Homo sapiens: one gene and its partner. The protein of the gene in region 1 purifies or fractionates together with the protein of each later gene. This does not show direct contact. Each region holds a gene or a part of one and is shown on either strand. Other genes may lie near its edges. The genes, in order: RAD52 and DAZAP1.

What was found.
Region 2: the proteins of RAD52 (region 1) and DAZAP1 purify together in Homo sapiens (affinity purification with mass spectrometry; one study listed by BioGRID and IntAct). This does not show direct contact.

The regions. Positions count from the first base shown.
Region 1 is NC_000012.12:925,521-929,334, reverse strand, and holds part of RAD52 (DNA repair protein RAD52 homolog), read left to right. Parts: intron 1-2,071; coding exon 2,072-2,190; intron 2,191-2,388; coding exon of another isoform or gene 2,389-2,539; intron 2,540-3,809; coding exon 3,810-3,814. UniProt on the Homo sapiens protein: Involved in double-stranded break repair. Plays a central role in genetic recombination and DNA repair by promoting the annealing of complementary single-stranded DNA and by stimulation of the RAD51 recombinase.
Region 2 is NC_000019.10:1,417,292-1,421,105, forward strand, and holds part of DAZAP1 (DAZ-associated protein 1), read left to right. Parts: intron 1-208; coding exon 209-249; intron 250-912; coding exon 913-1,079; intron 1,080-1,374; coding exon 1,375-1,440; intron 1,441-3,814. UniProt on the Homo sapiens protein: RNA-binding protein, which may be required during spermatogenesis.

The DNA of each region.
Region 1 (3,814 bases):
TCTAAATACTATAGAGGATAAGATCTATCATTTATTTGAAGAAATACAATGAACAAGCTTTTTTTTAATCATTAGAAATTTTACATTGTTCTTTCTTTATCTGAACTCATATTTCTATTCTATTTCCCCACTGGTTTTAATCCTAATACATATTTATGGTTGAAAGTTTGGCTAGGCGGGGTGGCTCATTCGTGTAACCCCAGCACTTTGGGAGGCCCAGGTGGAAGGACTGCTTGAGCCCAGGGATTTGAGACCAGCCTGGGCAACATAGCGAAAGCCCGTCTCTACTAAAAATACAAAAAATTAGCTGGGCATGGTGGTGTATGCTTGTAGTCCTAGCTACTCAAGAGGCTGAGGTGGGAGGATCACCTGAGCCCAGGAAGTCGAGGCTGTGGTGAGCTGTGATTGCGCCACTGAACTCCTGGGTGGAAAAAAAGAAAAGTTTTATCGGTAGCCTTACTGTGCTTCTCTGCCTTTGCCTGTGTATAAAAATAAAAATTTTTGGTAAATTTTCAGTGCACTTAAGGCTCTAAATATTAAAATATTTCTTTTGGATTTAGTTATATTATAGCTACTGTTAACACACAATTGACCAGACAATTGTGTTTATGGTGAAGAGAAAACATAAATACAGCAAAATTTTGATACTTAGAAAAATTAAAGATATGAAATCTTGCCACAAAAATAAAAAATTTAAAATATAAAATTTATGGAAAATGTATATCTTAATGAGATGGATGGTGCTGTTTTTTCTTTTCAGTTAGTTTATATATCCATATATCCATAACTGAATATTACTTACTTCTTTTTTTTTTTTGAGATGGAGTTTTGCTCTTGTTGCCCAGGCTGGAGGGCAATGGTTCAATCTCAGCTCACCGCAACCTCCACCTCCTGGGTTCAAGCGATTCTCCTGCCTCAGCCTCCCAAGTAGCTGGGATTACAGGCATGCGCCACCCCGCCCGCCTAATTTTTTGTGTGTGTTTTCAGTAGAGACGCGGTTTCTCCATGTTGGTCAGGCTGGTCTGGAACTCACAACCTCAGGTGATCCACCCGCCTTGGCCTCCAAAAGTGCTGGGATTACAGGCGTGAGCCACCGCACCCGGCCTACTTATTTCTTGAATGAACAATTCAGCATTAATTCTATTCTGACTTATTTTTCTAAATAGTACTAAAAAATCTTGTATCTATGAGTGAGTAGCTGAGAATGGAAAGAATTGTGTTATAGTGTCACTCATTTATTTGAGTGCTTTCTGAGTTATTTTTTAAAAATCACAGAGCGCTGTCATCAAACATTGTATTTAATTCTCAATCAGCGAATGATGTGCTCAGGTCCACCTTCTCTTTTGGTGAGAGGCAGGAGCTGGACGCCACCTGATTTACAAAGGGTTTGCTCTCCCGTCCTTACAGACCATTAGATCCAGTGTTCAAATCATCCCTTTGTTTCATATCCCAGAGGTTTTTTTTTTTCCAAGACGTAGTCTCACTCTATCACCCAGGCTGGAGTGCAGTGGTGCAATCTCGGCTCACTGCAACCTCTGCCTCCCAGGTTCAAGTGATTCTCCTGCCTCAGTCTCCTGAGTAGCTGGGATTACAGGTGCCCACCACCACACCCGGCTAATTTTTGTATTTTTAGTAGAGATAGGGTTTCACCATGTTGACCAGGCTGGTCTTGAACTCCTGACCTCAAGTGATCCACCTCCCTTGACCTCCCAAAGGGCTGGGATTACAGCGTGAGCCACCACGCCCGGCCCGGCCATCCCAGAGGTTTTTTTTACCTTAGGGTGATGCACACTGATAGGATTTGGGGTGAGTTTCTAATGTGCCCTTTGTGTGTTGGGAAGTTGGGAAGGGAGGATCGTCTTGACACCTTGACCGCAGGCACATGTCCAGGCAGCCCAGGTCTAGGAAGCAGCACTCGCGATGGATTCTCACCCAGCCTTCTGCCCGTGCCCCTGTAGCAAGGCCGCCAGGTGGGAGAGTCCGGCTTTGAACCCTGCTGCTTGAGGAACAGGGGAGTTGTGGCACGCCTGCCGCTCTCGTGTTTGAGTTCAAACTCCTTTTCTGCCCCCAGGATGGTTCATATCATGAAGATGTTGGTTATGGTGTTAGTGAGGGCCTCAAGTCCAAGGCTTTATCTTTGGAGAAGGCAAGGAAGGAGGCGGTGACAGACGGGCTGAAGCGAGCCCTCAGGTGAGCGCGGGGCTGGGAGTCTAACCTGCGTCATTTCAGCTCTTGCTTCAGAGCAGATTTCGATTTTTTTTGGAAGAGGTAACACATCCACATGGTTCAAAAATCCAAGCAGCGTGGAAGGTAATTCTCACCCCTGCCCTGGTTCCTGTCTGCCGTTTTCCCACTTTCGTTAGTATTTTTTCAATGTTTCTGTTTCAGGCTTCCCTTGCTGGGAGTAAGTGGTAGAATCCTGTACTCTCTCTTCTCCGTGCACTCAGTCATGTGTGCCGGAGGCCTTCCCACTCCTACTGCGAGTGCACAGACAGCACCCTCCTCTCCGTGCTCCTCAGCAGTCCTCCGCTACGCACAGGTAGCATAGTTAACGTAGTTACACAGTCACGCAGATGTCCGTGTTAGTCCATTTATGTTGCTATACAGGAATACCAGAGGCTGGGTAATTTATAAATAAAGGAGGTTTGATTGGCTTATGATTCTGTGGACTGTACTGGAAGCCTGGTGCCAGCATCCACTTCTGCTGAGGCCTCAGGAAGCTTCTAATCATGGCAGAAGGTGAAGAGGGAACGTGGAGAGAGAGGGAGCAAGAGAGAGAAGGAAGGAGTCCCAGGCTTATTTATTTATTTTATTGTTGTTTTTCATTTTTTGAGACAGGGTCTTGCTCTGTTGCACAGGCTGGGGTGCAGTGGTGCCGTCATCGCTCAGTGCAGCCTTGAACTCCTGGGCTGAAGTGATCTTCCCGCCTCAGCCTCCCGAGTAGCTGGGATCACAGGCACATAACACCACCCCCAGTTAATTAAAAAAAAATTTTTTTTTTTTTGGAGAGACAGGGTCTCCCTTTGTTGCCTAGGCTGGTCTCAAACTCCTGGGCTCAAGTCATCCTCCTGCCTTGTGCCTCCCAAAGTGCCGGGATCACAGGCATGAGCCATCATGCCCAGCCCCCACACTCAAAACCACCAGATCTCTCATGAGCTGAGTGAGAACTCACTCAACACCAAGGGGATGGCACTAAGCTGTTTATGAGGAATCCAGCCCCAGGATCCAGTACCTCCCACCAGGCCGCACCCCCCGGCATTGGAGGTCACGTTTCAACATGAAATTTGGAGGGGATAAACATCCAAACCATATCCGTGTCTTTGAGAATTGAAGTGAATTGAACCAGAAAAACCTATGAGTTCTGTGGGGGAGTCCGTAGATCCCAAGTTAAGAACTCTGGTCATGGGAGGTTGTGCCCTTGAGCCCCCGGTCCCCAAGTGTGTGTTGCCTACTCCTGCTGGGAAATTGGAGCAGCCTTTGGGGGGAAAAAAAAGAAAAACTCTCTGCAGTTTGTTCTCCATGTCAGGAGGTGGCTGGTGGGTTTTGTGAATGGCGCCGTAATCTTTTCATACTCATCTTCTCTGTGAGGGCAGGGACTTGTGTCTTGTCCTCACTGCAGTATTCTCAGAAACTAACACAGTGCAGGAACATGCTAGATGCTTACCAGACATCAATGGGGAATGCATGTTAGGGTCCACTTCCTCTGCTGCTCCTGAGAAGCAACCTGTACAAAAGTTGTAATTCTATTCTCTGATATTCATGTGTAACAATTCTTAACCCTGTTTCACCTTTTTTTCTCTTGCCCTTAGGAGTT
Region 2 (3,814 bases), on another chromosome or scaffold:
GCAAGGATTGGGATCATCTTTCATGTCTGCAGACAGCATGGGCGAGGCTGACTCGCCATTGCTGTGAGCTTTGTATGCCGTCACGTGCACAAGGACGTTTGCGTCAGCTGCTTCTGTGGTTTGAATTAAGACCTCAGCTTGGCTTGGATGGGGGCATTTCTAAGGCGAGCGCTGTCTTGATCCTGAATGTTTTCTCATTGAATCGCAGGAAGCTCTTCGTGGGCGGTCTTGACTGGAGCACGACCCAAGGTAGGTGGGGAAGGGGTGTCAGGTGGGTACTGCAGATGGGCTCTAGGACCTCGGCCTTCAAGTTGTGTCTGCCCGCCTCTTGCTACTGTCTTGGATATTTTAAAGTCCTTTTGACGTTGTTCTGATTTCTGGGCAGGGGACAGAGTAAGTGTGTATTTGCTCTGAGACTGTTAATTTGGTATTTCCATCCCAAGTTACAGGGAAGACCTCAGGCTGCAGGTTCCTAGCTCCGGGCTGAGGTGGCTTGTGGAGGCAGACAGCTGTTGTCTGGAAGTGCAGAGGGCTGGGGGCTGGCCAGGCTGTTACTGAGTTCAGAATAGGAGGAAAGAGTGTGTAGCAAAGTCGGCGCTCCTTGGCCACTGCCAGCATTCAGAGTTGTCTTGTTTGCCTTGCCTTAAACGTTGCCTTCCTGGACGCCTACAAAGTCAGGTTGTAACCGCTGGCCACTGCTGTGCTCACTGGCAGCCCCTGATTTACGTGAGGACCTCAAGTGTGTGTTGGGCAGAATTCCCCAGCGCTTCCCGTACACCCCCCACCCCCAGTGCAGCATCGCTCGGTGCGTGGCTGGTGGACTGGAGGAGTGTGCGTGCCGGCAGCACTGCCAGGCACGTGCCTAATGCTCTGGCCCTGTGTGTTTGTGTTTTCTTCCCGATTTCTGAGCAGAGACTCTGCGCAGCTACTTTTCCCAATATGGAGAAGTCGTAGATTGTGTTATCATGAAAGATAAAACCACCAACCAGTCTCGAGGCTTTGGGTTTGTCAAATTTAAAGACCCAAACTGTGTGGGGACGGTGCTGGCCAGCAGACCGCACACGCTAGATGGCCGAAACGTAAGTGCCCTTCCGGGAGCTCACACCCGCTCTCTGTCTCCCCTGTCCTTCCTCTGCTTCATTTTTTCCTGGACTCTGACCGATGTTTGCGTTAGAGTATGTTTGAACGTGGGGTCGATTGGGAAGGATTAAGCCTTGGTGCTGAGGCTGGATATTGCAGGAGGATACAGGGTGAATGGAGCCGGCGGGGCGGGGCGGGCCGGGCTGCTGTGCCGTGGCTGCTGTTGTGCTGACACCCTCTTTCCTAGAGAAACAGCCTCTTATTCACAACCAGCTGATTTGAAATTTCCTGCAGATCGACCCCAAGCCATGCACACCCCGGGGGATGCAGCCGGAGAGAACACGGCCGAAGGAAGGATGGGTAAGGGGCTGGGCCGGGCGGCCTCCTTGTGTGTTCTCCACTCCACGTGGAAAGGAAATGCGTGCCTTCAATCTGCTGTTGTCGCTCGTTAAGATTGAGGGCGACGCAGGTCTTCTGGGTTGGCACTCGAGCAGCTGAGGATCACCCAGATTTATCAGTGCCGTGAGTGTTTTACAGCCAAGAAAATTCTTACTAATCTATCTTAGGGAAAAAAAAAATGACAGCTCATGCCACTGATTATCAGGAGCCAGTCAGCTTCCCTCTGTGCCCTGTGTGCCCTCTGTGCCGGGCCTGCCCCCTCCCACTGCCTGGCCCTCCTCAGAGGTGGGCCATCCTTCCACTGCCGGGGCTGGGCCGGGCTGTGTCAGCTCGTGCTGGCCACTTTACTGCTCCACTTGAGATCCCCTGACGTGGCAACTTGGGTTCTCTGACCTGCGCCCTGGTGCTTGCCTGGCCGACAGGGCACTGTCCTGGCATGGGGTCTCCTTGGCATTTGGGTCTCACCACCACCCACACCTCACCTTCCTCCAGCCCTGCAGTTCTCACACCGGCACCAGGAGCCTGGTGGGGCGGTGCAGATGGGAAAGCTCTTAGCCCCATAGAACGTGCTGGACAGTGCAGACCTGGAGGCCTGCTGAGGCACCGGGTGCCAGCCTCTCCACAGTGTGGGCAGCAGGGTGGGGTCTATATGTATTTACATCCATCTCTGTCCACATACACCATTCCTAAGGACCGGAGGGTGCGTCTCCTAAAATGACGGCCACCCCTCGCATGCACCCACCGTCAGCACGCTGGAAAGCGGCTGCAGGGAATCCCGTGTCATCTGTGTCCAGGCCGTGTTCCCAGCTCCAGAATTGTTTCACAAGTGTCTCTCATAGCTGGTTTTTTTCAGACTGGAATCCAAGGTTCATATTCCATCTGGTTATTAATGTCTCTCTAGCTTTTCTTAAGATATAATGGGCACGTAGTAAACTGCACCACTTGATGATTCTGACCCATACAAACACTCATGAAACCATCCCGACCGTCACGGCAGCGAGCACTCACCCCACGCACACACTCATGAAACCATCCCAACCGTCACGGCAGCGAGCACTCACCCCACGCACACACTCGTGAAACCATCCCGACCGTCACGGCAGCGAGCACTCACCCCACGCACACACTCATGAAACCATCCCGATCGTCAACGGCAGCGAGCACTCACCCCACGCGCACACTCATGAAACCATCCCTACAGTCACGGCGGCGAGCACTCACCCCACGCGCACACTCATGAAACCATCCCTACAGTCACGGCGGCGAGCACTCACCCCACGCGCACACTCATGAAACCATCCCTACAGTCACGGCAGCGAGCACTCACCCCACGCGCACACTCATGAAACCATCCCGAACGTCACGGCGGCGAGCACTCACCCCACGCGCACACTCATGAAACCACCCCGAACGTCACGGCGGCGAGCACTCACCCCACGCGCACACTCATGAAACCACCCCGAACGTCACGGCGGCGAGCACTCACCCCACGCGCACACTCATGAAACCACCCCGAACGTCACGGCGGCGAGCACTCACCCCACGCGCACACTCATGAAACCACCCCGAACGTCACGGCGGCGAGCACTCACCCCACGCGCACACTCATGAAACCATCCCGACCGTCACGGCGGCGAGCACTCACCCTCAAAGGTTTATAGTCTTTTATTCAAAGCAGTTGGAACAACTTAAAATGTGATAGCCTTGGATAGGGAAAAAAAAAAAAAAGGATGGTTGGTGGGTGGGGGCAGGAGGAGAGCAGCCCCAGCCCTAAGGGCAGCCCGGGAGCTGGACCAGAGACTCCTGGCTCTGGCCACCCAGTGAGCGCCGAGGCCCCGGGAAGTGGTGCCCAGGAGCAGGCGCCCTTGCCAGTGGGAGGCCGGCAGAAGGGGCTGTGTGGTTTGGGCCAGTGTTTCACACAGCTCTTGAGCTGCTGGAGGTTTCCGTAGCCATCATTGTCACCTGCTGGAGATGTACAGCCTGAAATCCAGCTTCCTCTCTGCTCATTTCGTCGTCGCTGCTGCCTTTCCCCTGCCGTCCTAAAGTCCCTGCCTTCACACTGGAGCACTTTTCCACGTGGCAGTGGTTGTAATTCGGAATAGCTGAGGCAAGGCACGCACTGTGTCGTGGGTCCGTTTAGCTGAAATGTAGCTCTGCAGAAATGCTCAATCCCTGTCTCCTTGGGTCTCTCTAGAAAAGTGAGAAAGTGTCTCAGCAGAGCCCAGTGTCTTTGGACTTAGCGGGCTTGTGGAGTGTTCTGCTCTGGCTTTCAGCTGACTCTTTAAACCAGCGCGGATTGGCCTTTATGTCCTCCGCAGCTCGCGGGAGGGTTTGG